3 separate regions of the Homo sapiens genome follow, and regions 1 and 3 are each linked to region 2. Evidence: fine-mapped expression QTL. A gene starts in region 2. Each other region holds a variant in brackets. All regions are shown on one strand. Distances are between the middles of the regions.

Region 1 (10,681 bases), 25 kb before region 2:
GGGCTTTCCTTCAACTGACAGTCCACATGGTCTCTGGGGTACCAAGGTCAATACTAGAGATACCATCATTTAGCTAACAGGGAGACTATGGCGTGTGCAGGAAGAAAACAGAGACAAGTGACCTGAAGGCATCAATTCTCCTTCTTATGCAAATATTTTTGTAGTAATAATACTTTAAAACCTTTCAGAGATGACAAAGTGAATACTCTAAAATCTCTGTGAAATGACAATGCCTTATAATTCTTGCTTTTAAATAGTAAGTATTCTACAAGTGCCAGAAGAATTAATGCCATTTAAAATCATTATCAATGCTTATTGGAAACAAATAACAAATCATATGAGTTCTCTATATTGTGTTAAAAAAACGCTACTTTAAATATTACTTCCTGATCATATCACCAGAGAATAAGCTCTAAAAGCGAAGCATGTCAACCTCATTGCTAACAAGTGAAATGCAGATTAAAAATGCATACCATATTTCACCTAACTCATTTTGAAAAAGATCAATAAGTCAGATAACACAGTGAGCTGGGTAAAGTATGGGGAAACAAACATTCTCATAATGCTGTGTTGTAAACAGGTATAACATCTCAGGAGTACATGTTATTGATATCAATCAACACTGCAAACGCAAATAGCCTTTTGCCTCGCACTTTCGCTTCTAAAAATTTATGATATTCATTGATAAATTCGCTGCAGTGTTGTTTGTAAGGACAAACAGGTTTTTTTTTTAACCACTCATCAAGAGAAGACTAGTAAAATAAATTAGACAAATCCAAACAAGGAACACAACGCAACGACTAAAAAGCAGAGGGCAGCTCCATGTGGCTATCTTTATAAGTGTTGAAGCCCAGGCTATAGCATTCAAGAAAATAAGCAAGGTAGAGACCAATGTATAGAGTTACTTGGGCTGGGTGTCTTCTATTGCCCTTAGAGATCAGTTCTCCACCCTTGGTCACCAGACTGTCTGCCCCAGGAGGCTCATCTTTATGGACTACATCAACCGGCTCTCTTGCCCTCAAGCTTCCAGTAAGTTTGGCCAATGGGGTGACCCAGCGGTATCTAAGGGAAGCAATGAGGAGCACATTTAAGGTATCTGTGTTCTGGCTCCCTCTGTGGAATCTTTTCCAGCTGGCCAAGTCCCTCACTTGGAGGTCACAGGTTCTCTTCAGGAGGTCATTTCCAAGATTTACTTCTTCCCTCTCCTTGCCACTTTGGGCCTAGCAAGTCAACATAGCAATTACTAGTCCTAAGTATCTGCACTATGGTTTCTCCCATTTTGTGGTGGTTTCCCTTGACTCTATCCATACCTTTGTAAGTACTTGTTTTACTAAACTCTCCTTAAATCTCCCTAATTTGAGGGTGCCATCTGCTTGCAACTGGAACCCTGGTTGACACACCACCATTTCTGTTTTGTTGTTATTGCTTTTATTGCTTTTTTTTTTTTTTTTCAGACAGAGTCTTGCTCTGTCACCCAGGCTGGAGTGCAGTGGCGCGATCTCGGCTCACTATAAGCTCTGCCTCCCAGGTTCACGCCATTCTCCTGCCTCAGCCTCCCGAGCAGCTGGGACTACAGGTGCCCAACACCACGCTTGGCTAATTTTTTGTATTTTTAGTAGAGACGGGGTTTCACCGTGTTAGCCAGGATGGTCTCGATCTCCTGACCTCGTGATCTGCCCACCTTGGCCTCCCAAAGTGCTGGGATTACAGGCTTGAGCCACCACGCCTGGCCTGTTACTGCTTTTTAAAGGGAATACACACACACACACACACACACACACGTGCACACACATGCATGCTTATATATTTAGACGGTCTCTGGGAGTAGATGCAAGGACATGAGAATCAAACATTATTTGGCCCTGTAAAAGGAAAATAAATAGGTAGAAAACTGAGGTTGAGAAGCAACTTTTTATTTCATACCCTTCTGTTACTTTTGAATTTTCTATTATTTTTCTGTACTTAAAAAATGTTTTCATTATAAATGAGCAAATGCAAGGCAGATTCTGTCATGGCAGATGCATGCAGCTTTCATTCAAGTGACAGCCCCACATAGCCTCTGGGCACCAGGATCAGAAGTGGAGAAACAATACCTAATAGGGAGACCACCATGTGGGCAGAAAATAAAGAGATAAGCTCAAAAGCATCAATTTTCCTTTTCATGCACATGTTTTTGTAATACTAATATAGTTTTTAAAACCTGTCAAGAATGACATAATCAATACTCTAAAATCTCTTAGAGCAGGAAATAATTCTAGTAAAATACCTAGTACGGGCCGGGTGCGGTGGCTCACGCCTGTAATCCCAGTACTATACACACACACACACACACACACACACACACACACACACACACACATACATATATATTTTCACACTGAAACTACCTACCATCTGGCCAACAATTAAGGATATCAAATGTCTGGGATACTCTCCACACAACAAGACATCTAAAACAAACACCAGGTTGGTCCCTACCCTCCTATGGCTTATATTCTAGTTTGAGAGGCAACATTAACAACGGCAACCTCATGTGAATCAGTTACTTGCCTTTAAATGCAAACATGAGGTCAGAAATGGAGACAGAGCTGATACGGGAAGTGTGTGTGTGAGTGTGTGTGTTTATGCATTTATGTGTGTGATTTCCTCATTTGGACTTGTTCAACTGAGGGAATTTAGCTTTGTAGGTTTGAGTTTCACTAGCATTTTGGCTCATGAATTTAGTAGTTTGCTATGATTGCTTTAAGAAAACTGCATAAACATAAATTTGTATTTACCAAACAAATTAAGGGATTAAGGAATGATTACTTGTGTCTCAAATGAATTCATCCAATGAGGTACTTTAAATTGAAATCTTGGCTGTACCTTTAAACTCAAATTTTTTTAAATGCAATTTACAAGGAAGTTTTTTTAGTCTTCTACGGAATGAAACAAGCTGTAGCTGAACGGAAAAATAATTGGCTTTCTCCAGTGACAAACATAAAATAACTGAGCTGGAATTTCAATTGCATCCTTTCCTATTTAACACTTACCAGCCCCAATGACCCCAAATAAATCCTAAAAATGCATACTTGGTTTTCTTGCTTTCTTGTATCATTGAAGAATGAAGTACAATTTGAGTCCCCCCAACGCTTGCTGAATTTTCATTTATTTTTCTGTTTTTTGTTTGTTTTTGTTTTTAGTGGCAGGGGACCTCTCTGAGATACAGGCCACATAACAGGAGACAAAATCTAAACATTTAAAATGACTCTTGCAGGTGGAAATATCTACACATTGTTGCCAAAGGCAGTATTTCAGAATTCTAGCACTTGTGCCATATTCAAAAAGCTGAAACAATTGTAACTTTCTCAATCATGCTCTTTCAGCTCTAATAGGACCCAGTGAATAAAACAAATTTCTGAAAGCTGGGGAGAAGCAAGCAGTTTATAGTAAATACTGTCATCAATACATGAAATTCTTAAGTTTTTCATTGATAAAGCTCACTTTAACAGTGCCTTTATCTGGCAAAGACTGACTGCAGGGACTATGAGATGAGTCAAAAACCAGAATGTAGGGTTTGGGGCTGAGAAGAACAGGAAGCCAGTTAAAAAAGTTAAGCCATATAAATGCAAATGGTATATTAGATCAAGTGAAAGAGTAGAATGGAGCACTATTTCATGAACTCTCAAAATAATAACTTTATGCCTCTGCTGAGAAGTGCTTTAAAGTTGGTACTTTACCTAAAGTGACAGCAACTGAGAAAACAATTCTCCCTCAGTTGACAGGACTTGGAGTGCTGTAGCAACAAGGAAATAATTTATTATTGAAAATAAAAGATGATTAAATAACTCTCTTGGTGATGGTCAAAACATTGGTAAATGGCACAGACTGATAGAGGCAAGATAATGATACACGACTGACGGAGTTTTACAACATTCCAATTCAACTAAAGTAATTTGTTACTTACCAGCAAAATTAGTCAACCTAAACGAAAATGTGCTGCTTTCTGACAGCCCTCATATTTAAACCCTTGAGGGAAGGGGGACAGGATAAGACATGGTCCTTTCCTCAAGATCTTTAAGTTCTTCTAGGGAATTTTTAAAAATGCACGAAATGATTTTCATCAAAAGAGCTTTGGAAATAAGGATGGTCTAAATGAAGATGTGCTTTTTAATTAAGTTATTCATTTAGGATTTAAACAATTCTTTATCTCAAAGTACTGAGGCAGCTTAATGGAAAATGCAGAAACTAACACAAAATCTGGTAAGAACAGATTTTTAAAAGATAGTGACTATTAGAGAATCTGAAAAATCAGCCCCTGAAATGAACCATTTGCCTCAACTAAGCATGGGATTTGGTCCGAATATCAATGTTCTGTGAGAGCAGAATTTTCACTGATAAATTTCTCCGTGGAGGCTTTTGCTTCAGTTTTTCAAAATATGCTGCGGGGTTCTTGTGCATGCCTGGTACCTGAAAGGTTTTTCAATTACAGTTTTATTAAACATGTGAAAATATTGGTCAAAACAGATGATTTCCATATTTTCTCTGGAAAAGGGCCAGAGTACTACCATATTTGGGAAAGGCATCCCTTTAAAAAGTAATATAACGAGGTCCAAGGCGCTTGGTTTCTAACAACCAAATAACTTGGGCACAGACTGAGAAGCTAAAGCAGAAATTGCTACAGTGGGTACAAGAGCTGGACACAGAGCACAGATGTGTTCTGTTTGGCCTGAACTCTTTTCTTTTTAAAATATAAACCAAGTTTTAAAATTCAGAGATTTCACATGCAAAACTGGTTTTCTAATTCCACTTAAAGAAATAAAAAAGACTTGGAAACAGTGGGCCCACACCATCCCAAGACAACAGTCAGCTGACTGTGAGCTGAGATGCTCCTCTTGAGAAAGTCTCTGTGTCCTCAAATTTGCCTCCTCCCTGACACTCCTTCATGTCACCTACTCCCCTGCCAGGCCCCTGTGGCCACCTGAATGTTTACAATTAATGATTATTTCACCTGCACATTCAATTCTCTCTTCTAATATTAGGGTTTAACTAGAATGCAAAAAGTCATGATTTAACTCTCTAATATGAATATTTTTAACATGCATGTAATTCTCTAATGTGTATAATCACATTTCAGTTCAAGGCCAGAGGACATCTACTTTAGAAATCAGATCTATGTGATGTTAATAATTATTATTACCATGATCATGATTTATCGAATGCAGACCAAATGCTTAGTCCAGTATTAAGTACTGTGATGATTATTTCATTTACTTATCACAACCACCATGCAATTTTGTCATTAACATTTTATAGATGGAGAAATTAAGGGTCAAAGAGATGAAATAACTTATCATATCATATCAATGAGAGAAAGCAAATAAAAGACAAAGCCAATGGTGACACACAAGCCCTCATCCTTCCTGATACTCCACAATGAAATAGATATTCCATCAAAAAGTTTAAGAGTAGAACTTTACACACATTCCAGTACAAGGCAAAGACACAGGTGTGACTACTAGGAGTTGAAGAAAGTATACAAGGGGTGGGGAAGCAATAAGTTTCTTAGACAAAAGCTTTGGTTCTTTGTAATTACTTCACTTATTTTAGGAGACATATATAATAAGGTCAGCTTGGTGAAGCCCAAGAGTTTTAAGGTAAAAACTTGAGTGTGAATTCAGGCTCTTACATGTATTAGCTGTGGGCCACTTAACTTCTTGAAACCTCCATTTCCTGATTTATGAAATCGTCCCATGTAGGATCATGATGAAGAGCAAACATGCTTGAAGTACCTGTGAAAATCCTCTAGACAGTAAAAAATGCCACACAAGCATT[C/T]ACTTGCTAGAAAGGTAACATTCCATGCAATGCTCTCTCACACCAAAGAAAATTGCAGGAAACAAATGACAAGATAAGTATGAGTTTGGTAAATCTATTCCTACTCATCAATAGAATGTAGCAGTTTGATGACTTCTAAAAAACCTTTCAGGAAATTTGAATGAATAGACAAATTGAAATATAATAATTTTTTGTTACCACTGTGCCCTGATGCTTTCAAATATACAATGGAATCAATCATCGTTACAATAAAGTTGCCAAGAGTGTTTAGGATCTAGAACCAAATAATCTGGTTTTGAAATATTGTTCATAACCAGCATAGGTCTGGCAAACAGGCAGTAACTTGAGAATCCAGTTCAATTTTCAAATCCTCTGCTTACTCCTGCACATTTATCAGGCGAGAGCTGATCTACTTTGGCTTTGAGACACTTAGTGTGTTATTTCGCAACATGCTAATAAAATTAGTAAGTTTGACATGCAGAGATGGGAAGGCAATGATGTGTCTTAAGATTGTGGAATTCTAAAATATTGAAATAAAATCATGTTTGGCTTACTTTTCAAGGAAATAAAACTGCTGTACTTTCATTCACAGCTGATGAAAGAATTACAGAAGAATATGGGCAACAACAATTGTAGTAGATTTTTAAGTACCTAGTTAAAAAGTGTTCTGGGCCATCCAGATATATGGAAAGCAATATTCCTTAATCTTCTCTCCTGGAGCTCATTTGCTCACGTAAAAGTTAATTATAAAACATTGCTATATGACTTCTACTGGAGGAGAATTCACCATGCTGGGAATGGCAGCAGGTTGCAGTGGAGAAGGCTCTGAATCGACCATGAGGGGGCTTTGAGTTCAAGGGCAATTACCCAACCACTCTCTGTGCCTGTTCTCCAACCAGTCAAACAAATGGGTTGGACATGATGAACTTAAAGGTCCCTTTCATTTTGAAAAATGACACAAAAAGGACAGAAAGACACATTCAGATTCACTTTGGTTTCTAAGATAACACCAAACACTTTGAAACTTCCCCCTTCATGTTTTTCAAGCAGAGGAAGTAAAAAAAAAAAAAAAAAAAAAAGAAAGAAGTTGCAAGTATTGTTAAGGCTTCTAGAAAGGACAACAAAGGGCAGGAAATTTGAAACAAAATCTGAGAATCTGCCCTTAAACTGGGCAATTTTGCTTGTTTTCTCACAGTGCAGTTAGATGAAAAAGTGTAAGGTTGATCTTCGCCTTTCCTGGGCATTACTCATTGCTGTCATGACCTTGATGCAATTTGCAGTAAACATCATAAAGGTCTCTCTTGTGGTGAGTAGCTGCAACTTTTCTGATGCTACCTCCTGTGATTAAAATATCTACTCCCGGCCTGGCACGGTGGCTCACGCCTGTAATCCCAGCACTCTGGTAGGCCGAGGTGGGTGAATCACGAGGTCAAGAAATCAAGACCATCCTGGCCAATATGGCGAAACCCCGTCTCTACTAAAAATACAAAAATTAGCTAGGGCTTGATGGTGCGTGCCTGTAGTCCCAGCTACTCAGGAGGCTGAGGCAGGAGAATCACTTGAACCCAGGAGACAGAGGTTGCAGATGGCCAAGACTGTGCCACTACATTCCAGCCTTACGACAGAGCAAGACTCTGTATTTAAAAAAAAAAAAAAAAAAAAAAGGCTACTCCTTTCCAAGTCCTAGCAATCCCACTAAGGTTGGTAACTTAGTCTGTTTGGCTGCCATACAAAATATGTGAGACTGGGTGATTTATAAAGGACAGAAATTTTTCACAGTTCTAGAGGCTGACAAGTCCAAAATCAAGGCACTGGCAGTTCTGATGTCTCGTAAGAGCCCCCTTTCCTGCTTCCAAGATGGTGCTTTGTTGCTGTGTCCTCTAGAGAGGACCAGTACTGTGTCATCACATAGCAGAAAATGGAAGGGCAAAAGGATCCAGGCTGGTTACCTCCAGCCCTTTTATGTGGGACTAATCCACTCATGACTTAATCACTTCCCCCAAATCTCCGTCTCTTGATACCACCACAATGGGGATTAAGTTTCAACATAAATTTTGGAGGGGAGACATCAGCCACAGTAGTTGGTGAGAAAAAAGGACAGTATTTACATAATGACAGTTGTCAATGGGCTGTGGAAAAGTCAAGATAGATTCCAGCAGTGATTTTAAGATGGAAAATGAGAACCATGCACACAGTCTTCAAGGTGCAATCTTCCAACATAGTTCTGGAACACAGCTGGCTCCTTCCATCCATGGGGAATGACCACATTTGTGTGCTGAAATAACATTTAGTACTAGAGATAAAACTGGAATAAGTGATCTAAACTTTGAAATGTTTTGAATGACCTTTGGCTACAAAGTCAAATTATAATGCTTTCTATTTCTTAAGACAACTCTTTATGGAAGTTCTAGTATGTACCTAACTTTGGCACCTTAGATTTGCCCCACACTGAATCTTATCTATTAAACCTATCTCATTCTGGGGTGAGAACCCAGATGTGTAAAATCGTATGGCCAGAGGTGACTGAGAAGTGCATTTTGACTATGTTTCATAGTCTTTTATCCATCTTAGCATAATCTTTTTACCAGCACCAGTGGAGTTGTGAACTCGCTCAATTTCTTGTGATGTCCAGTGTAAAAATGTATGCCTATAAATGTAACTCTTAGAAAGAGAAGCAAAAATGAGAAACCATGGGGGAGGAGGGGAGGAAATGACAAGCACAGTCTGTTTTTAGGACACTGTACTTGCTGTTCCCTCCAACTAGAATGCGCTTAACCCAGAGATCTGCCTTCTTCATCCCGATTTCATACCAATTACTGCTCAAATATCACATTATCAAAGATGCCATTCTTGACAACCGCTTCTAAAATTACAAGCATCTACCATTGTTCTCAGACCCTCGCGCTGTACTTATCTGCTGACATGTTGATAGAATCTTGTTTATTAGCTTGTACACATGGACTTTAATTCACTCTGTATTCCCCAAATCTCAAACATTGGCTGGCACACGGTGGTTGGTACTCTATAAACACTTGGTGATGGCTTTCCTATCCCTAAGTCCTCCAAAGCCAAGTTTCATACCTCTTCCTTAAGTTCCAAAGGAAACCTTATCTGCAGAAAATTAATGCATATTTGCTGTTGCTGGATAAAGAATAAGGATATAGTCACAGAGAAAAAAGGACATGTTGAGGCCAGGTATGGAGGGTATAAACAGTTGGTGAAGAGTTTTAAGCTCAAGGCCTAGCCTGTCTAACTTAGCAATAAAAGGAAGTCAGTTCTGAAGTCAAAGAGAGTTCTTCTTTCCCCACTGGGAGGAGCTGGTTCATGAAAGTGGAGGGCCAGAGCCAAGAGAACTCTCCCAAGACACATTGTTCAAAAGTCAAGGGCATAATCTAGATAGAGCTACACAGTAGCCATGAGGACACATGGATTTATAAATTTAAATTAACTAAAGTTAAATGAAATCATACATTCAGTTCCAAGTCAGACCAGCCATTTTCAAGTGCTTAATAGCCACATGTGGCCAGGAATAGACAGGATACTTTCATCATTGCAGAAAGTCCTATAGGACAACACTGATCTAAAGAAATTCAAAAGGACCTGCGTTCCTCGGCTTCTGAGGAGATCTGAAAACGAAGGCCCAGAGGGAAATGGAAGGAGAAGCAGGGCAGAGCTTGAAAAGTAATCGCATTGGAAAGGGCCCTGACTGCTGGCTTGGATGCCTTGTGTAATTAAAGTTCTATCCCAACTTCTTAAGGAATGAGTCTCGTATTAAATGACTGGCTGTCTGTAGTGTCACTGCTGAGGTAGGGAGAGAAGACAATTAGGGACAAGGAGTAGTGTTCCATGGAAAACACGTTAGCTATGAGTGGCAGCAGCAAAAGGTCTCAGAAGTGAGAGAAATGGACCCAACTAGGTTTGCAACAAGCTGAAACCTGTAAAGGCTCATGTCAGCTGGCACAACCTCTCAAAATGCAAATCCCTGAGCCCAAGATAAATGTAAGGCTCGTCTGACTCCTAAGGTATCAAGTAATTCTTATTAAGCCCCATTTCAATGACTGAAACCTAATGCAGAGCCCAGGCACACAGATTAAGTTTCCAGTCAAAGCCCACACAAGCCTAAAGAAAGGAAATTAACATTTTAGAGAAAAAAAAAAAAAAAAAAAAAAAAACCCACAGGCTTTTTCAAAGGCTTTTTTTTTTTTTTGGAGGATTTAAGTCACAGCATGCCAAATAAAGGTGAGTTTCTAGGAGAATACAGCACAGAGGTGACCAAGGTGGGTGAAATTTATTCACAGGGGAAAATCCAAATGCCTTCAGGGAAACCACTTTTGCAGGGTTCTTCTGATAAATACTGAACCCAATTAAAAGCATCCCTTCAGGGCAAGTTTTCTCCTAGGAGATTTCTATTGGCCGCTTTAACTTCCCTTTCCCCAGAATTTCCAGGAGAAGTTTGTAACGGTTTATAATCCCTACCACTCCATGCTCATAGACTTTAAGCATATTTTTCTCCCACAAGGCAGTACTATTTTTATAATCCTTTTAAGATTAAAACTAAAAACACAGATGATTAAAAAAAAAAAAAAAAGGCCTGGCTGCATCCTCCTACAATAAAGTATTATAATTGCAGTGCACTACTAAGTAGTATTTCCACAAACATTAGACTATCTGGTTTCCAGGACAAAGAAACAGCCTATAATTCCAAAGCACAGGAATGGAAAAGTACAAGTAATTTAATCTGTCCCACTGTGATTATAGGTGCTAAGAAATTACCTGAACGGACCTCTTTGGGACTTGAGAAGAATGGGGACTTTAATGATGCTCCATAACTGCCCTATTCATTATGATACCCAAGAGCCACCTGTGG
Region 2 (10,323 bases):
TGCTAAGACCTAGAAAGCTGACTGTGGCAAGTAAAAGGCAGAAGTACTCCTGATGTAATGGGTGAGGAAGAGAATCTTAACCTCCTATAAGTTTTCAAATTGTCCCCTTCAAAAGTCAAACTGTCCCCTTCTTCTTTGTTATGTTGGATAAAGTCGGCTCTTCTTGCCCTCATCAGCAGTTGTACACGATTGTACACAAATGATTGTCCTACACACTCAAAATTTGGGGTTTACAATACACATCTTTGCAAATGGGGTATGTCCAACTGCTATAAGTGGCCAAACCACAGGTCACCCACCATGAGTCCTACCACTAAGACACCATTGTCAAACTGTGGGCTGTAGAGTTTCCTTATGCAAAGAAACTCTGCCTTATCTTGATTTTCTGTGGTACAAATGTAGTCAGGAAGGAGGCAGATAATGCAAGCAAACCAAATCAATTAAATCAGGAGCACTGAACTGATGACATTAGATGGTAAGCTTCCCCTCTCTCAAATCTGATATCCATTCACCCCTCTTCAGCCTCCCTCCCAACACACGCATACACACATAGAGACCACACGAAAGAACCTAGCAGCATGCAAGCACAAGAAGCTTGGGCCACACACTCATACATGCACCCAGGCAAAACTCCAGAGAGACCCTGAGCAGGATCCATCTTTCCATCCATAAAATAAAGATAATAAAACTTATCTTGGAGATTTCTTCCTAGGATTAAATGAGATACATAATATCAAGTGGCTGTCTCAGGGTAGGTTCTCAAATGTTAATTGTCTTTCTCTTCCTTCTCCCTGAGATGAGACAATTTGCCTGTCCAGCATTCCAAACCCTTTGGCATGCCAAGCAAAGAAGTATGAGTCATTATCTTGCCTCAGTCACAAGCAACAAGTACCTGTGGAGCAAAATATTACCAGGAAAGTAGAGAGTGCAAAAGAAGCGGTGAGCATTCTTGCTGCGAATGCATATCTGTTCTACTGAAAATCATAACTTAAATCTGCTGAAGTTGTACATAAGGACCTGGAGGGTAGAAGCTAACAAGGTAACAGAGTTATGCTTTTATGTGGAACTTGGCCAAATAATGCCATGCTGTAGCCAGGAAGTATGTTTCCCCTGCACCCTATTTAAAACTGCTTTGGTGGTTTGCATCAGACCTAAATAATATCCACGCTACTCTAGAGTAGGCAGTGGTGGCTACAAGACCACACTTCCCTTCAACCAACGCTGCTTCACCCTTATAAACCAAAACATAAAACCCAATGAAAAAAGAAACTTAAAAAATAAATTTAGATTTTAGCACTTCATTCGTAATAAAATTCTCTTTCCGACACCCTTCTATGAAAAAAAAAAAAAAGAGGAATCAGTATCTACTGGATAATTCCTCTGGTGACTTTATTTAAAATTTTGCAGTGGCTTTCAAGGCCCTACACTGATTCAAAATTTATGGCTAAAGGAATTGCATGAAAACTTCTAGCAGCTTTCCATCATGTTTGTCAGAAGTTGAAACATCTTTTTCCATATTTCATGAGAATACAAGAACCAATTCCATACTTCAAAAACAGTCAAATTACTTATTGTGATCAGAACTAAAACTATTCTAACTGAAAGTAAAGATTTTACTATTTGGACCAAACACCTAACAAACAGTGACTGCTTAGTTAAATGCTCGACCTCAGTTGCATTAGATACAGTAGGATGAAGTGGAGGCTCAGCTCAGCACTTCCTGGGTGCTAAATGATGTGTCAGGCACTGCCAGAGATCCCAGAGATAGAAAACTGAATAAGATTGAGAGGATTAAAGGTATAATGGGCAAGAGAGTTACGTAAAGATATGACTTTGGCTTGGTATTGTTACCAGCTAAGTGAGAGGTCTGTATCTCATAGGAGACATTTACCTCAAACTGGGACATTCAAAGCAGGTTTCCTCAAGAAGATGACACTTGAACTACGTCTTAAAAGATGAGTGAAAATTAGCCAGGTAGCAGGAGTTCCAGACATCCTGAACAAAGGAACAGCTGCCTAAATTGCTCACATTGTGTGTATGTGTAGTGACACAAATAGACTGGGAAAATGTGGGCTGTGGTGGGATGTGAAGCAGCAGAGTCAAATGGGAACCAGGTCAGAGGCCCCTGGTAAGCCCAATTAAGGAGTTAATAGTAATAACAGAAGCTGATATTTATTGAGCATTTACTATGTTGCAGGCACCATGTTAAATACTTTAAAACAATATTTTATTTAATCCTCACCATAACTCCATAATCCTCATTTTACAAATGAGACCAGGGATGACTAGTAGGTAAAGCAACTACAACAGGCTACACAGCCAGTACATGGCAAGTGGGTCTGGAACCCAGGACGGCCTGATTCCAAAGTTTATACCCTACACTCTTCTACCACCAGCCTATCCTCAAAGAGAGCACTAAATGAACGCATTGGGTCCATCATGCTGGCTATGGAATGGAGAATGCAATTAAAGGCTGCCCAACTGGGGCTCCGTGACAAGGCAGGGATAGGAAAGAGACAACAAATTGATTCAAAAATACATTCAATGGGACCTAGAAGGAAACATTCAACATGCACATCCTCCTAGTGCATACAACAACAAAAAAAAATGAGGCTTTTGAAAATGAGGTGTAGAAAATAAAACACCAGTATTCCATAATGCTTTCAAATATAAACAGTTAAAACACGTATCCTTTTCTTTACTTATAACATGCTCCCAGCTGTTAAATTCAATGGCAAAGACCAGGTCTGTCTTATTCATCTGAGATGGTATCCCAGGTCTGAGCATCCTGCCTGGCAAGAGATACTCAATAAATATGGTTGAAAAGGTAGAAGAAAAAATGCCCAGTTTTTGCAATGATATCAGAGGTGCCTTATTGATCCAGAGTTAAAAACTAACCTTACTGAAAAAATTAAAAAGTCATGTTCATAACTGAGTAGAAAACATGTAGTAGTTATGTTGACTACATAGACAACAGTCATCATTAGGGAATGCTACATTGAAAAGAAGGCAATGAGTTCAAAATGTGATTAGTATTTTGTATAAATCATAACTCATTAAAAATAAGATGTTGAGTGGCCTAAAGGTGGAAATGTGTTTTTATGAGGCGGAAAAAAAGCACGAGTAGACTGAAGATCAGATTTGGGGCCTAATGATGTCTAGTCTCTTACCCTGACAAAATAAGCAGGTTATTAAAGTGATGTGAAGAACCTGATCACTATGACACTTTTACAAATTCTTTGTCCTCAATAAGAATCTATCTACTTCCAGGAACCTGAAAAGTCATATTTTTCAGACCTGAAGAGTTATTGTGCACTTTACAGTTTTCCCCAAAAGAGTCATTTCTTAATTTTGATCATTTAGGAAGAGTGAATCTATTAAGTCAAAAACGAAGAAAAAAAAACTTTCTATTTCTTAGTGAAATTTGTTCTTTTATTTAAATCCTTTGCATACTACTAAACAGAAGTACAGAAGCTACTAAACAGAAGACAGATTTTTGGGCCTTTTTAGGTGACGTAAAAGGAGCTTGTTGTTTATTAAACAATCTCATTACCTGATATATTATCTTGCATTAAGATATTTTGAAAAAATGTTTTCAGTTTACCAATTACGTTAGAGAAATTCTGAAACTATTTACTTACATGAAAAATTAAAATGTAAGTAGAATTAGGTTTCTCGTCTTCAATATATCTGTCTTCAACCATTGGCCAACTTTGAAAATTTAATTTGAATCAAATGAATACAAATTCAAAATGATTCATTAATTCAACCATTTTGAAACTTCAGTTCTATAAAAATATGAAATCTGTGGGCCTTGTAAAACTGTCTAAATACCCAAATAAAAAGCCACCACGTTTTTAAGCTAATTGTTTAAAAGTGTGTATATTGATGAAATGAAAGTGACTCGTGAACTATTGGGTCTGGAATTTGCAAATCATAAACCTTATCCTTGTAAACAGAACCTAACTAACAACATCAGGGCCTGCTAATTTCCTTCTTTTATAATCTGGAACAAAAGTTGTAATGATTTTTAACATCCACAGAAAATTAAGGGTGCCATTTTAAATATTTATTAGCAAAATGTCACTTAGGTTTTAAAAGTCTGGAGGAAAATGAGAGACAATTGAACATTCTGGTACTGCAATGCAGGAAAAACGCCAAGAACGAAACACTAAGATTTTATTAAAACCATAGGACTCAAATGTGTGTCAAGACTTTTTGCTTGCAATAGTGCCTCTTCCTAATTTGATTAAAAGCTTCCATCTCCATGCCACCTTCAATGTATGCCATAATTTTTAAAAAGTTCCCAATCCACTTCAAACACTCTAAAATTTACAACTGACCGTGATGCGCATTTTTTCTAGACAAACCTAAAGGTAAATCTGCCCATGTCCCTGGATAAATAAAATGAGTGCCTCCGGGTGATGTGGACTGTCAACTCCTCTACATTTCATCCAAAGTCTACATGGGTCATCTCCAAGTCACCAGAAGAGCCAGGGGAAAGGAGGGGAGGGGCACGATACGTAAGATGTTAAACATGAAGATGATGTAAAATTACCCAGATTCAAGCTGGCCATTTTACAGATGAGGAAACTAAGGCCCAGAAAAAGCTCTATGACTTGCCCAAATACTCGGTTACCCAGACCACAGCTGCAGATACTGTTATTTGGATCATAGCTGCAAAAAGTCTAACTTTTGGCCGGGCGCGGTGGCTCACGCCTGTAATCCCAGCACTTTGGGAGGCCAAGGTGGGCGGATCACGAGGTCAAGAGATCGAGACCACCCTGGCCAATATGGTGAAACCCCGTCTCTACTAAAAATACAAAAATTAGCTGGGCGTGGTGGCACGCGCCTGTAATCCCAGCTACTCGGGAGGCTAAGGCAGGAGAATCGCTTGAACCCAGAGGCAAAGTTGCAGTGAGCCGAGATTGCGCCACTGCACTCCAGCCTGGTGACAGAGCGAGACTCCGTCTCCAAAAAAAAAAAATCTAACTTTTGAAGTCTCAGAGGTTTTACACTTTCCATAACAAATAGTTAAGAACCCCCATTCCTGCATGCATATATATATTAATATTATATATATTTATATATATAATTATATATATATTTATATATATATAATATATATATATATTTTTTTATTTTTATTTTTTCCTTAAAAACCTTCAGAGACAGCGATCAGGTGGGTAGCCTAGTTAGGATTTTAACCCTTCGGTTTCCAACAAACGATAATTGCATAGAACCATCAACTCCCTGAAGACAGGACTATCTTGTTCCAGGCAAAATCTACAGCCTCTAGCACCCAGTAGGCATTCAGTGAGGGATTCTCGGTTTCACCTGAGCATCTCCACTCCCTATCCATCCATGCCAAGGCGTCAGTGGAGCCAGCTAACTTTCTTTTGGAAATCGATTATTTTCTTGAAACTTGTTTCCAAAAACTCCGGGCCAAGAAGCCGGCCTGAGGGAAAGCGTGGCCGTCTCCAGGAGCTAAGGACTGAGGAGCTGGCCTTTTGAACGGGTGGCTCAGAAAGAGCTGGGTGGGCACGCGGCATCGCCATGGGCGGAGTGGCCCAGGTGCGCTGGCTGCTTTGGCAGCTCAGGCTGCCGCTCCGGGCCGCTGCTCCCCGGCCGCCTTCAGATAACCAACTTCTCAAACTTCCCTTTCCGGGGGTGGGGGCTCGCCTCGAACGCGGCCAACACAACGCCTTTCCTGCTCGCACAAAGGGGACCAAACGTGCCCCGCGCCCCTTGCAACTGAACTTTCCTTCTCTTTTTCAAGAAAAACTCACAATCCCTGCAGCTACGGGAGTCGGGCTGCGTGAGTGTCGCGGGGGAAACTTTCCTCGTTTCCGCCCGGGGGCCGGGTTGCCGGGCCCGACTGTCAAGCGCAGCGGAGAGGCGGGGACCCCAGGAAGACCCCCGGCGCCCCGCCGAGCCCGGGCTGGGGACCACTCACCCGACTTCTGAACGTGCGGTGGGATCGTGCTGGCGATACGCGTCCACAGGACGATGTGCAGCGGCCACAGGCCCCTGAGCAGCCCCCGACCCATGGCAGACCCCGCTGCTCGTCATAGACCGAGCCCCCAGCGCAGCGGACGGCGCCTTCCCGGACCCCTGGCTGCGCCTCCGCGCCGCGCCCTCTCCGGACCCCGCGCCGGGCCGGCAGCGCAGATGTGCGGGCCAGATGTGGCGCCCGCTCGCCAGCCAGGAGGGGGCCTGGAGGCCGGCGAGGCGCGGGGAGGCCCCCGGCGGCCGAGGGAAGCTGCACAGGAGTCCGGCTCCTGTCCCGAGCGGGTGCACGCGCGGGGGTGTCGTCGCTCCGTGCGCGCGAGTGACTCACTCAACTTCAACTCAGCGCTGCGGGGGAAACAGGAAACTCCTCGCCAACAGCTGGGCAGGACCTCTCTCCGCCCGAGAGCCTTCTCCCTCTCCTCGACGTCCAGCCCCTAGCTCTCTCGTAGCTGCCAATCATGTTTCCTAGACCAGCCCCTCCGAGAGCTTTGGCCGACTTTCAGCTGCCCCTCACCGCCCTCCCACACCACTCAGGAGTTCCTCGCTCCAAGTATTTACTCAAGAATGACTAAGTGCACACAGTTCACAAAGTAACAACAGAAAACGTCCACGTTTTCCCTAGTAGATCAGAACATCTGCCGCCTCCCCTCAGCTTTCTTCAGATTGCTCCTAGGTGCTTTAGAGATGCGTTTTCAAATTGCAAGTTGAGATCCAGGAGTGAATACTCCAATCTATTGAGTCGCGAGCACATTTCTTTCCCAAATAAAATAGTAACGGTAAATTCTACTTCATTAAATTTGTGCTTCAGTTGTGTCTATATGCATGTATGTATGTGCATACACTGTCAAGTTGTAAAATGTTTTTCTTTAGGTCGAAGTCTAGAGGTTTTTCTCAAGTTTTAATGTACATATTGATCACCTGGAAATCTTATTTAAAAATGCAGATTCTAATTCAGTAGGTCTAGGAGGCAGGCAGAGATTCTGCATTTCTAATGAGCACCTGGATAGAGCGTCCCATTTTGCACCGCCTCTTCCCGGGACTGAGTCAGTGAGTAATTGTAAATGATCACCTATCACGAAGTGATAGTGGTGGGAAATGTAATTTTCAGAATGTATAGAGTATAGCAGAAACTGTAAAATTAAAAGTGGGTTGGGAGTCACCTGAATGCTTGTGCTTTTATTCCCTTAATGCAGGTGAAGAAAGAGAATACTTACCCTCTCATGTGCAAACGGGGTAACATGGGAGCAGAACAGTATAAACTTTCAAATTTCCTTTCTTGCTAGGGCAACCAGATTTGCCCAAGACATTCCTGGTGTACATGTTTTGTAGTTTAAATATTAATAGAACCCCCTTTCTCTTTCAGATATGTCCTGATTGGATAATAAACTATGTGATCAACCTACTTCCCACTCTCAAAGATATGATTCTGTACAGCCCTCTGGTCAGTAGATCTTCTAGCAATTCATTTAATGAATTCCTTTACCTGAGAGGAAGATTGCAGAGGCAAGGGTTTGTGCCAGGGTCTCCAGGGAATAAAGGTAAATAGCCCTCCCCCAAACCCAACTCCCAAATCTTTCCTGTCATTCTAAGTGTTCATTTGCTTCATCCTGGAATTTTAACTCATGCTCCACCTAGCACCCAAGCTGCCTCTGGATGTTTTGCCACTTCCCAGTACTCATGTTGAAGATGCAGAAAGTGCAGTGAAATCAGGAGGGCTAGGCATCTTCTTTCCCACCAATTAATTGCCTTGCCAAAGCTGGAGTGACTTTGTCAATGGAGGAAGATTGAGTTCCAAATCTTCTCCCTATTCCCTCTTCTGCCACCAGCCCATGCCACTGCCATGGCTTGTGTAGGAGTCTCCCACGAGTCACCCTCAGCCACGGCCGTTCTGGGCTCTTTCACTCAGTTTCTCAAACGAGAGCTGAATTCAGCTTTTCAAAATACAAAACTAGTTATACCAACCCTCTGATTAAAATCATTTAATGGCTTCCCACTGCTCTTGAGATAAAGAGAAGATAAAAACCAGATCCTTGAACGTGTCTTCAAGCCTCCAACTCTCCCGTAAACTTTCATTTGGCTTCTCCTTGCTTACTGAAAGCCTTCTCCAAATTTCGTGAATATGCCTCTGTAATCCTCCTACCCTTTATGCTTAGAGCCTTCCCCAGTGTGGACTTCCTTCCTCTGACCTTTTTTTCTTCACCCAGCCAACTCCTGGTCTTCGTGGATTGAATCATAACTTCTTTGATGGGCAAGCTTTCCCTCACCTCCATGAGTAGATCTTGTATTACACGTTCTCTTGGCACCATATGCTTTTCTTTTAACAGCTGTAACTTTATAATTATTTGTGTCATTCTTTAATTTATATTTCTATCCTCCACTCAACTCCAAATTTCTTGAGGGCAGGTATTATGTATCTTTCCCTCCACTTACTATTGTGTCCCTAAGCATCAAACACATAATCGATGTTTAATAAATATTTGTTGGATGAATGAATGAATCAGGCAATAAAGATTTAGAAGAAAATTGTATTTGATTGTTCTAGTTGCTTCATAACTCTGGAGAAAACATTGTTACCGAATATTTGAGATATAAACAGACTACATTTTAGCCGAGAATGATGTCACCACTACTTCCTTTTCTTAAGAATGGAGAAGTATGTGGGTTTCTTTCTTCTTCTTTTTTTTTTCCTACATTTGCCCAAGTTCCTCCAGATAGCAAACATGTACTTTCTTTCTCCTGAAAACACAATGTGGCAAATAAATGTCCAATAGATTCCAAAAGCTTTGTTTTCCTTAATTATCACAAAGATGTTTTACATTGTTGGAGGCTAGATATTTAAATCTATGGTGGAATGTTTAACTGGTGGTCTTTGCCATGATACATCATTAATGTTGATTTTAATTTTGTTTGCCCTTAACATTTCTGATTTAATCTCCAGTCTCCTGTGAAATTGAGAAGAATCAGAATTCAGCATTGCCAAGTGCAAGCTAGCCTTTTGAAAATCATCATAATAAAAATAATAGATGTGTAAACTCATGCATATTGCAATTTGATAATTTTAAAAATTCATCAGGCTGAGTGCAGTGGTCCACACCTGTAATCCCAGCACTTTGGGAGGTCTAGATGGGAGGATTACTTGAGCCCAGGAGTTCGAGACCAGCCTAAGCAACATAGTGAGATTTCATCTTTACTAAAAAAAAAAAAAAAAAAAAAAAAGCCAGGCATGTTGGCATGTATCTATAGTGCCAACTACTCAGGAGGCTGAGGTGGGAGAATCACTTGAGCCCAGGAGACGAACGCTGCAGTGAGCCATGATTGTGCCACTGCACTTCAGCCTAGAAGACAGAATGAGACCCTGTCTCAAAAACAAAAAATAAATAAAAGAAAAAGAAAAAAAAATTGTCATGATGCCCTTCCTTTTGAAATTCTTGTTGAAAGGGATGTCTGATACCCTTAATCAAGACATCATTTTCACACATAGTTGTATATTTGGCTTAGTATAATATTTTGTGTATTCACATAAGCAGTTAATATATACATGTAAAAAACTGGGCCATTTGCAAATGGGAACAAAAAAATAATAGCCCGACTCAGGGTTTAAAAAACAAGGAAGGTAACGTTTAAGCCCTTAATGAGTTGAAAAACAATAAATATCAACTTGAACAGAAATTTTAAAAGCTGACAATCTATTTTACCAGCTTTTTAAACTCTGCACGCACACACAAACACACACAATTGAACTGAATCAAATTGTGGTTTATTTAAACGTTGGGTTTCTCAGTTGTGATGAGAGAAGAACTTCCTACTCCCCTGAGCTTTGTGACATGCAGCTGTTGAGGTTACTGTCAGCTAGAGCAGTTAACAGGGAGATTCCTCTCCTTATAAATTAACCAGCCTCATTCTCAGCTCTTATCTCTTGACCAATTTTCCTTTTATTGTGAAGCAAACCAATAAGCACTGAGACTGTAGTTAATTTGTGAGGGTCATCCACCCTTTGTGGGTCATCCATGATGCTACCTCCTCCAGGAAATATTTTGTGATGCTTCACCTACTGTGATCACTCCTTTCCCAGGGATAACCCAGGGAACATTTCGTTTATTTAGCCTTTTTTTAAAAAAAAATGTTTGCCCCATTCTAACATGGAGTACATTATTGTTATTTATTTGCTTTTTAGAATTCTACCCTAATGATTGTAAAGCCCTTAAAAGCACAAAATATTCCTTTTTCAATGTAGAACCACACTCCGTGCTCTACAGATAATCAGTATTCAGTGTGTGTTTCTTGTCTTCAATAGAGAGAAAAATAAGAATA
Region 3 (10,681 bases), 95 kb before region 2:
ACCCTCTAACTTGAAGGGCTTCTGAGTGCTCTGGGAAACTGAAAAGCAGGTTACCCACACAGGACCTCAGTTAATAAATTATAGTCTATAACTTACTTTCAAATAGTATAGCACATGCATTTGATATATATGTGTGTGTATGATGGCTTTAATGCACATTACTAGGATGCATGGCTGCCCAATCTCAAAAATTACTCTATGGATGGTGAGTTAGTATATTAAAAGTCACACTTCAGAGACTGTAACTACAAGCATTTCACCTACCTTTATATATCAATAGTGGAGGTTTTGTCAATTATCATGATGGATATGCAAATAAGTGCTCATTGTTGAAATTACTGGTGTTCAAGGTGTATGTCTTAGTCCACGTTAGTGTTGTTATAAAGGAGTACCTGAGAATGGGTAATTTATAAAGAAAAGAGGTTTATTTGGCTCACAGTTCTGCAGGCTGTACAAGAAGGATAGTGCCAGTATTTGCTTCTTGTGAAGCCTCAGGCTACTTCTACCCATGGCAGAAGGTGAAGGCAAGCTGGCATGTGCAGAGATCACAAGGTAAGAGAGGAAGCAAGTGAGAGGGGCATTTCCATCCCTTTTTTTAAAATAAACAACCAGCTCCCTACTGGAACTAATAGAGTAATAAATCACTCATTATCATGAAGATGGCACCAAGCCATTAATGACAGGTCTGCCCCCATCATCCAAACACTTCCATTAGGCCCCACCTCTGACATTGGGGATCAAATTTTATCATAAGGTTTGGGGGACAAAAATCCAAACTATAGCAATATGTGGATGGACTAAAAATATTGTGAAGATCCCTTCCATCTTCAGGTGAATAGAATCCAGCTAGCTCAGACATCCAGATCTTTTACAATGGCATTTGAAGCTTGTTTCTGAAACAATGTCCAGGTACTAATTTACTAAATTCTGGTTGTTGAACACCAACTGTAAAGTTGCTGCCTCCTAACTTTAGAATATTGTTGCTCTTGTCTCAGGTGTGAGGTCTGGTGATGGTACCTAAAGAGAGAGACTTGGAACTTCCTTGAGGTTGTGGTAAAGGTTGTATTATCAAACCTGCCAAGACCAGCTCAATTGGGGAGGCCCTAACCCAGCAATGCTACAGGAATTAAAGACACACACACAGAAATATAGAGTGTCGAGTGGGAAATCAGGGACTCTCACAGCCTTCGGAGCTGAGAGCCCCGAACAGAGATTTACCCACATATTTATTGACAGCAAGCCAGTCATAATAAGATTTACTAAAGGTATTCCTTATGGGAAATAAAGGGATGGGCTGAATAAAAGGATGGGCTCTGGCTAGTTACCTGCAGCATGAACATGTCCTTAAGGCACAGATCACTCATGCTATTGTTTGTGGTTTAAGAACGCCTTAAGCGGTTTTCCTCCCTGGGTGGGCCACGTGTTCCTTACCTTTATTCCAGTAAACCGACAACCTTCCAGCATGGGCGTCAAGGCCATCACGAGCATATCACAGTGCTGCAGAGATTTTGTTTATGGCCAGTTTTGGGGCCAGTTTATGGCCAGATTTGGGGGCCTGTACCCAACAAAACCAAACCGGGGTCTGCTAATCCAGTGCAGCAAAGCCAAAGAGTGACACTGGGATGGAGATGAGAGAAAATGAGGTATTTATTGTAGGGTACTGAGCAAGAAGATTCAGGCAGCTCATGTTTAAGACCTGAACTCTGAGATGGTTTAAAGGTAGGAGTTTATAAAGATGGGGAGGCAGAGGTTACAGAAAAAGTCATAAATCAATACATTGAGGCTATACATTGGTTTGACTAAAAATGTGGGACATCTTGAAGCAGGGCCTCTAGGTCATAGGTAGATTCAAAGACTTTCTGAATTGTGATTGGTTAAGAAGCAAAGCTTTGTCTAAAATTTGGGATCAGCAGAAAAGAATGTTAGCTTTAGCTCATGGGTTTAACTGCCTCCCTCGGGAAGAAATTTAGAACGAAGAATGGTGATCGGAGTTCAGTCCTCAATTGCCCCTTATCTGAGTTCTATGTGCCAATGGATCCGTTTGGTGGGAGTTTGGATTTCTGTAAACCAACTCAGGAAGAGAGGTTAAAATGTTATCTTTAATTTCTATAGGGAACAAAACATCTTGTGATGCTAACTGCTTTAGCTATTGTTTTAAGCTACTTTTGTCTTCTTGCTTATCAAATCGCTCATTTACTTCCCAGGGCTAACTAGGTGTATGGAATTTCCCTTAAAGGAAGTCAAAATATTCCCTTATTATCACGCTTTGGTGGTGAGGGGTGGGCTGCAGGCCTTTAAGAGGGGTCCCTGCTCTGTCTCAGTTGTGTGACTCCTTTCTTTGCAATCTGAGATTGTTTTCAGTGAAGCCTGCTGGGGAGGTTTTTGGGAGGAGTCTTGTATCCTTAGTCTGCTTCTAAGCATTTGAAACTACTGATAACCAAATGAATCTGATAATTTTGACTGGCAAAATTGAGTTAGGTTAATTCATAACAGTCAAGGCCTGAGAAAATTATCTTGGGCCACTGGAGCCAGTACTGATTAACATTAAGTAGGCAGTAGGCTGCTATGGATGGGCGCTTCTTACCAGTTGCTAGTATGAAAGACTATTGATGTCATTCTTTGGCACAAGCGACATGATTCTCACTTGAATGGATCCAGAAGTTTTAGAGTTTCTGACTTAGTATCCGTGGTGTTCCCATGGGCTGACAGTATAAAGTGCCACTCCAGTGGGGGCTGGCTGTTCCCTGGATGATGACTTACCTTCATTCTGCATGGTTCCTTCAAGTCTGCAGCACATTGTCCCTCAGCCCCATGAACATCTTATCTCATCTTAGTTCCTTGGTCTCCCTTCAACTGGAAAATTTTAACTAGACTTGGTGATGGGGAAACAAGAAGCTTTGTTCTTATGTTTCCTGTCTTCTTTCTTGCTTTGAATCTCTTCACAGATTGCCTCTTGATGTTCAGAAGCACAAGCATTTGAAATTTTAAAAAGCCTTCCCTGGTATTCAGCTTTAACGGAAAATCATCCTGCCCCATGATTTAGCGTGAATGATATAGGAGACCAGAATATGACACCCCAAAATATGCCTCTTTAGCAGAATTATTTTGAGAAACAGCAGACACAGGAGAAGCTCTGAAAATAAAGGAGAAGTAAACCCTTTTCTATGGGAAATTTGCATTTATAAAGTAAATCTCAATTTTTTAAGTGTGTCTCCCTCTCTGTATAAGAAAGAGAAAGATGGGTAAATCACTAGAGGCTCTTAGCAGTGGGGAAGGTATTGACTTACATCTGCATTACAAAACTTACTCTTCTTTACTGTACTTTTCCTAGTTACCTCGTCCTCCCTGACACCATTCTCTGTTTTGTCTTTAGCTGAAGATAGTATTTATGCTTGAATTCTAAACTATCTCTTTGAGAGTTCCTCATTTGTCCCTGGGTGTCTCCCATGTATACATTTATTGCAGGGTACCAAGCAAGAAGATTCAGCCAGCTCGTGTTTAAAACCTGAAGTCCCAGATGGTTTAAATGCAGGGGTCTATAAACATGGTGGGAGGGGGGGAGGCAGAGGTTACAGAAAAAGTCACTGTATACATGTTAATAAACTTCTATTTGTTTTTCTTTTGTTAATCTGTCTTTTTATATTGAGGCCCCAGCTGAGAATTTACAAGGGTAGAGGAAAAATTATCTTTTCTGTCCCTGTAATGGGCACATGAAGAAATACCATGAAAAAGAAACTTTCTAATTCATATATATATATATATATATATATCCCAAGCCTTATCTCAAATCCCTAGAATAAGATAGGTTTGGAAAGCTAGAATTTTGGAGAACTTTCCAAAAGATAATATGGTACATATTATGTGTGCAGGGAAGCTTACACTTCTCTTCTGAAGGTTTGATAATTGAGTCGGCTGAAATAAACTGATAATAGACAGATTAACAGGAGAAAAGGCATACAAATGTATTAAGATGAAAGTGCACAGAGTCACAAAAAGTATGAAAACTCAAAGACAATTCAGATGATTGAAGCTTAAATCCCCTCTTATAAACCAAAAATAAAATCCTAAGCCCCCTCAGCTAACTAAACATGTAATCGCCTGGTGGGTTCTTCCTGCCCATTACATGGACAAAATTAATTCACTGAGATTGTGGTATTGCAGTAAAGAAATAGTTTAACTGACATGAGGCAGACCACACAGGAGAACTGCAGTTGTCACTCATACCAGCCTCACTAAAGGCTCAGAGGTTAGTTTTTCAAAGATAGTTTGGTGGACAGGGGACTAATGAATGGGTGCTGCTGATTAGCTGGGGATGCAATCACAGGGGCATGGAAAATAGTCCTTGTGTGCTGGAGGGGCACTCTGGGTGAAGGGCCACAGGACCAGTTGAGTCCTGAGTCTGGGTGGGGTCAGTGGTTGCCAGGACACAAAAGTCTAAAAAACATCTCAAAAGGCCAATTTAGTTTCTACAATAGTGATGTTATCTAAAGGAGCAATAAGTCACAAATCTTGTGACCTCCAGCCACGTGACTCCTGAGCAGTAGTGGACTACAGAAAGTAGATCTTAGCAGAATTCAGTCCCCTTTCATGGTTAGCTTGGCCTATAGCCAAGAATGGGTAAAAACAGCCAGCATGTGAGGCTAGAAGCAAGTTGGAATCAGCCATGCTAGATTTGTCTCACTGTCATAATGTTTGCAAATGCAGCTTTAAACAGACCCTCTCTAGTTCAGGGAGAACCCAGAGAAACCTGAAAAACTGAATTCCCAGCTATGATGGGAATGGAGGTCTGATATGCCTCATCATACTCCCACCCTTTGCAGTTTAGGCGCAACTGACCAGCATTAACATTAAAATAGAGATCATAAGACTGAGTAAACAGACTATGGCAATAAGACACCAATTCCAACCTGACTGGTATAGCATGTCATGGCACATGACAGATAGCAGACCCTGAAGGAAATAAACAGATTTTACTTTATTTTTCTTTAACATGTTTTGAAATGGCTCTGCAAAGCCATCTTTTGTGGGGGAAATTTGCATCTGTAGAGAATCTCCATTAATGGAGTCAGGCCTTCTCTTTCTAGGCTTTTCTTGGATCTAGGAGAGATTAACTGAGAGTCTGATACCTTTAAAGTCTGAAAAGAGACATTTATCTTCTATTCTCTCTGAAGACTGTGATCTATGAAGCTTCATCTACATACCAAAAACCTTGGCCCTCACAACCCCCCTTATCTTTACTCAAGCATTTTTGTTTCTACTGACTTCAAGTCTTTAGACAAAACTTAACTCTTTCAACCAACTGCCAATCAGAAAATCTTTGAATTTACCTATGATCTGTAAGCATCCCCTCCACCCTGCCTTCAAGATATCCCACCCCTTTAGGCTGAACCAATGTATACCTTCTATATATAGATTTATGATTTTACCTATAATTCCTGTCTCCCTAGAATATATAAAACCAAACTGCAACCTGACAAGCTCAGTCACAA[C/A]TGTTGAAGGAGCTCTTGAGATGGTTCTCAGGCCATGGTCACTCATATTGGGTTCTCAGGCCATGGTCACTCATATTGGCTCAGAATAAGCCTCAACACTTTTCATGGGGGAAAGGGAAGTGGAAGATAATAGACAATTTTTGAGGAAGAATACATGATTTTTAGGGGAGGTGAATGGGCTTGAAGAACAGACAATAGCCTGGGAAAAAGTTTGTATGAGCTCCAAGTGTGGAGTCAGCTTCAATCTTCTTTCCTATGAGTTAGTCTCATCTGTTTGATGAAATTATGGGGATGAAGGGTGGGGTGGGGCAAGACAATTTAATGCCTTCTGAAGGAAATTCTCTTAGTCAAATAAGGAACTCAGCATTTGCTGCTCCTCAGGTCCTCTCAGTTGGAAGTTCAAAGCAGTATATTTCAGGGTATCATTTTCTGAGTCCCAACATGTGATACCCTGCAGCACGAAGTAGGTAACACTCCCATAATCAGTCATACTAATATTTCTGGTATATAACATAAAAATATGCACCGTAAGTGTGGTAAATAAAGACTTAAAAGTAGCCTCACATTAGTTCAGGTCAGGTTTAGAAGCCTAATGAGCTAGAAGTTATTTTGATTTTTCTGAGCTTTTGAATGTGAAACAGCACATAGGGATTATGAACCTGTATTATCTTATCCCAACAATAAACACTAAATCTGCCATTTTGCTGTTTCTTTGGCACTTCTTCAGTGTCATCAGCCATGAAAGACGCTGTTCTCCTGTTAGACCCAGAAGATTTAGGAAGCAGTTAAACACAGACTCAAAAAACTATCTGATGGAAGTGCGATTCCCTTTATATATTGGAGAATATGCAATGCATATAAATTAGCCTTATGTATTCTTTTGTAGCAGGATGTGAACATTCACTCTTATTGTGGAAAAATAGTCATTTGGTTATTCTTTTCTCTGAAGCAGTAGAAAGATGGAACGCAAATATTTCCTTCTCCAGGGAAAATTTCAGGATGAAGTGAAGCAGTTATTTGGTTGCTAATGATTTTGGTAGGCTATCAAAAACTACTAAGAAACGAGCAGGAATAGAGCCTGGGTAAGGCAAAAGGCAGAGGATATGGAATCTGTAGGACCTGAGGGAGAAAGAGTTGTGGGGATCTCTGGAGCAGAGGGCACCTGCCTACTGTTCCATGGCAGGACCCTGAGGACATGGAGGATATAAGGAAATTGCTTGTGGTGCACCAAAAAGCAAGTCTAGACCTGAGATATTCTGTTTCCTGGAGAATAATCACAAACTCCCTGCAAGGCAACGAACCATAAGAGAGGCAGACCTGAACAAGCCCAGCAAATAAGGATAATGGTCATTTCAGGGTGAATTTGGTTTCATGGATAATTGAGAACCAAAACCCTTCAGCCCCCTCCCCTTTGTTCCAACTGTGTGAGACCTGGATGAATGATATAACCTCAGGAGTTAGTGGGGAAGGTTGTCTCAAAAATGAAGGGCTATATTTCCTACCAGCTCAGCAGGACAGGGGTTCAGAATCAAAATTAAAACAGATTTATTGTAAAATAAGACATTTCTGGCCCACCTGAGTTTGTAATCTGAGGTCAACAACTACTACAATTTAATTGGGATATTAAATGTTACTGTTGTATAGTATGTTTAGTTATAATGGCAACTGATGGTCTTTAAAAACAAACTGTCAGAATGTCTTCCTGGCTTGTTTAATTCTGAGAAAAGATGCCAAAATGATGTACTGGTAGGTTCACCACACTCACACACACAGACACACAAGCACCACAAACAAACAAACACGCAGAAAACAACTCGAAATATGGAAATACATAAAGATTTAGGCATTGAAACTAAGCCTGTTTTTCTATTTTTAAAAATTCTATGTACTACGGTTATTTTATGATAGAAAAGAATTGGAATACAAATACTAATGTAAGTATCTATAAATTAAGATTATTAAAGGGAAGTGCCCCATAGACTTTAAGCCCTAGAGGAGTCTTAGAGACAATGTAGTCCCATTTTATAGAGGAGAGCAAGACTCACATAGTATAAAGTACCTGTGGTGGTTTTAAAATATTGCTCCCAAATTCTTTGTCACATCTCCCATTGAGAGGTGGGGAGCTACGTCCCATTGCTTTGAATTTGGGTGACTTGCAACTGCTTGGCTCAATCGAGTATGGGAGAAGTGATCTTGTATGATTTCCAAGGCTATGTCATAAATACCCGTGTAGTTTCCACAGGTTCTACACTCACCCTAGAGGAAGCCAGATGTCATATTAAAAGTATTGTCTTAACACTGCCACTTGGAAAAGCCATGTGCCGTTGTCCTAGATGACAGCCCCAACTGAGATCCCAGTCAACTACTGGTACTAACCACCAGAGTGAGGCATCTTGGATATCTAGCCTAGCTGAGCTATCAGATGATTTAAGTCCCAGTTGACATATGACTGCAATGGTAGAAGAAACTCCAAGTGAAAACTTTCCAGCCTAAGCCTTTCCCAAATTTCTGACCCATAAAATTATGTAAAATAAAAAGATTACTTTAAGCCGCTAAGTTTTGTAGTAATAATAACTAGAATATCCAAGGGTCATGGAGCTAAGAGACTTAGTAACAGGACTTGGGCTAGAACCCAACTTTCCCTTCTCACCTAGGGTATTCCTGTGGCCCAAGGTAATCAGATAAGACACTGGATCAAGACAAATATATATACTTGTTGTTAAATTCCATAATATTCTTTGAGTACCATGGATTGCTCCTACATTGTGTCAGAGGCTGTTAAACACAGGGGGTGGCATTAAAAGAGGATACAATGCGTGGGGGAAAAGTTGTCAATTTCACTTCATTCCCATATTCCTGGGAAGAAAAAATCATAACTGCTGGAAAAATGATGGATGTTCAAAGAGTATGTGCAAACATTTAGATAAAGAGTAATCTTTACATGATGTTTTAATTATCATACAGTATAAACATTATCATTTTTTTCATTAAGATAGGAAATTATCATTGTTTTCGTTAAGATAGGAAATGAAACCAAATAAAATTTGTGAAAATGTCAGTCATCTTTGGGAAGGCCTCAAATGAACAAGGGAGAGTCTTGAGCTTGGTATCCTTTCATCTTGGAAGAATTCATAGCTGGGAATTGGCTAAAGCTTTGCAGTGGGTTGAATGATGGTTTCCAATGAGATCTGTCCATGCCTTAGTCTTCAGAACTTGTGAATATGACCTTATTTGGAAAAATGGATTTTACAGGTGTAATTAAGTTAGGAATCTTGAGATGATATCATCCTGGATTACCCAGGTGGGCTCTAAATCACATGAAAAATGTTCTCATAAAAATTTCAGAGAGAGTGAAGCCTGCAGACACCTTCATTTCAGGCTTCTAGCCTCCAGAACTATGAGATAATAAATTTCTGTTGGTTTAAGTCACAAGATTTGGGCAATGCATTACAGCAGCTCTAGGGATCTAATACGAGCTCCTTAAAAGAGAGTTGTAAGAGACCTGGAGGAACAAGGCTGTCCTCTTAGGGTAACAACAGTGACTACAGCACTACGACCACATAGGTAGATGTGGGACAGCAGTCAAACTCATATTAGGAGTTTCTCTGCAAAAGTCAGACATTTTTTGCTGCCAGCTGTTTTATTCCAGAGACAGTACCAATTAGAACATGCTGATCATATGCTGTTGGTTAGTATGTCTGTCTCCTCAGCTGATTTGTGAATTTCTAAAGACCAAGAGCCTTCATTTCTTTCTTCGACAAAACTTAATTGAAAGACTGTTATATTCTCCACTCTTTGCTAGGTGCTAAGATGCTGAGTAACACATAGTTATTGTTTTCAAGATGCCAGCCGACCTTGGGTGATACACCACATTGCATTCAACTAATGTTTGATGGAGGAAATAAATATGGATAGATAAAATGGTTTGGAAGAGTAGACAGTTTTTTACTGACAGAGACCTGGGTTCAAGTTGTGTAAACCTGGATAATTTCCTTAATGGTAAAATGGAAAAAAGTAACACCTACCTTGTAGGGCTTCTAGGATGATTAGCATATATTTAAAATATAGGTCCCATATAAAGTACATAATTTCAAATGCCTGTAATGTTACTAATAAATGAGGAACTAATGTTCCAGCAAAGATTATACCTTGCATCCTTGCATTAATATTTTAGTACGTTTTCCATGTGTTTTTACTTATTTCATTTTTCTCCAGCTTTATAACGTAGGCAGGGCAGGGATGATTCTCACATGGAACAAAAGAACAAGACACTGAATCCATAAAAGAAGAGGATGGTAATGGAGCTAGACAACCCCCTAGATTTCCTGTCTCACAGGGCCCTGTATTTCCCACCACAGCCATGCCATTCACCTGGTTGAGAAAGCCCTTCAAGGATAAAGGGTGGTCTACTCACAATTACAGTTTAAACATGACTCATCTTCCTTAACAGTCAATTTTACCCAAAAATTTGGGGAACAATATATCCTTAAAATACTGCAACAACACAGCTTCACTTTAAAGAATGCAAAAACTGAATTATAATAATGAATACTTATGTGCATCAGTCTCTGTTCTAACCATTTAAAAAACCAGTATTTCATTTAACTCTTACAACTTTCCCAAGTAGATCTCATCATTATCCTCCTTCTACACATTAAGAAACCAGGAAATAAAAACAGTTAAAAGACTTACACAAAGTTACAGTTAGTGGCAGAGCTGGGATTTGAACCCAGGAGATTTGGCTCTAGAGGTTCCAATTTTAACCACTTTGTTATCAATGTTTAGACAATTTATTATGAATATTTTAATGGACCTAGGGTACCAGGGCCACAGTTATTTTATTCTATTGTCTATCATTGTGGGCATAGGTCAGGGGAAGACACAGGAGAATTTCAGAAGCACTGTGCTACACAGGCAGTTTACAGAAATGATTTTTAAGGATCAATTGTGTGTGTGTGTGTGTGTGTGTGTGTGTGTGTGTGTGTAGAGAGAGAGAGAGAGCATGAGAGAGCAAGAGAGCAAGCATTTCACAGTGTGTGCAATTTTAGCTTAATTAGAATAGGAAGACTATTAACAAGTTATTTTTAAATGCACCAAAGATCAGGAGGCGTATTAGAATTAAATTACACCATGTGAGGCTGATTGGCAGCCCATGTAATGTGGGCAAGTTCACAATCTTGTCTTTTATCAGC

Evidence for each region. PIP is the estimated chance that this variant, and not a neighbour inherited with it, causes the effect.
Region 1: its variant is fine-mapped to the expression of TGFBR2 in whole blood (TOPMed, PIP above 0.99).
Region 3: its variant is fine-mapped to the expression of TGFBR2 in whole blood (TOPMed, PIP 0.93).

What each region holds. Positions count from the first base shown.
Region 1 is chr3:30,627,834-30,638,514 of GRCh38, reverse strand. The region is part of intron 1 of TGFBR2 (transforming growth factor beta receptor 2); the gene reads right to left. Among named protein-coding and RNA genes, the nearest start is that of TGFBR2, 27 kb to the right of the region's middle. The variant C/T (reference allele first, on the strand shown) is at 5,815.
Region 2 is chr3:30,602,611-30,612,933 of GRCh38, reverse strand. TGFBR2 (transforming growth factor beta receptor 2) reads right to left here and starts at 6,333. Exons shown (of 7, transcript NM_003242.6): 1 at 5,957-6,333. The coding sequence starts at 6,050. LOC105377015 (translation initiation factor IF-2-like) reads left to right here and starts at 6,010. Exons shown (of 2, transcript XM_047449400.1): 1 at 6,010-6,788; 2 at 7,376-8,535. The coding sequence starts at 6,010. The coding sequence ends at 6,450. RefSeq lists a silencer at 6,160-6,259.
Region 3 is chr3:30,697,079-30,707,759 of GRCh38, reverse strand. No RefSeq gene overlaps it. Among named protein-coding and RNA genes, the nearest start is that of TGFBR2, 96 kb to the right of the region's middle. The variant C/A (reference allele first, on the strand shown) is at 5,490.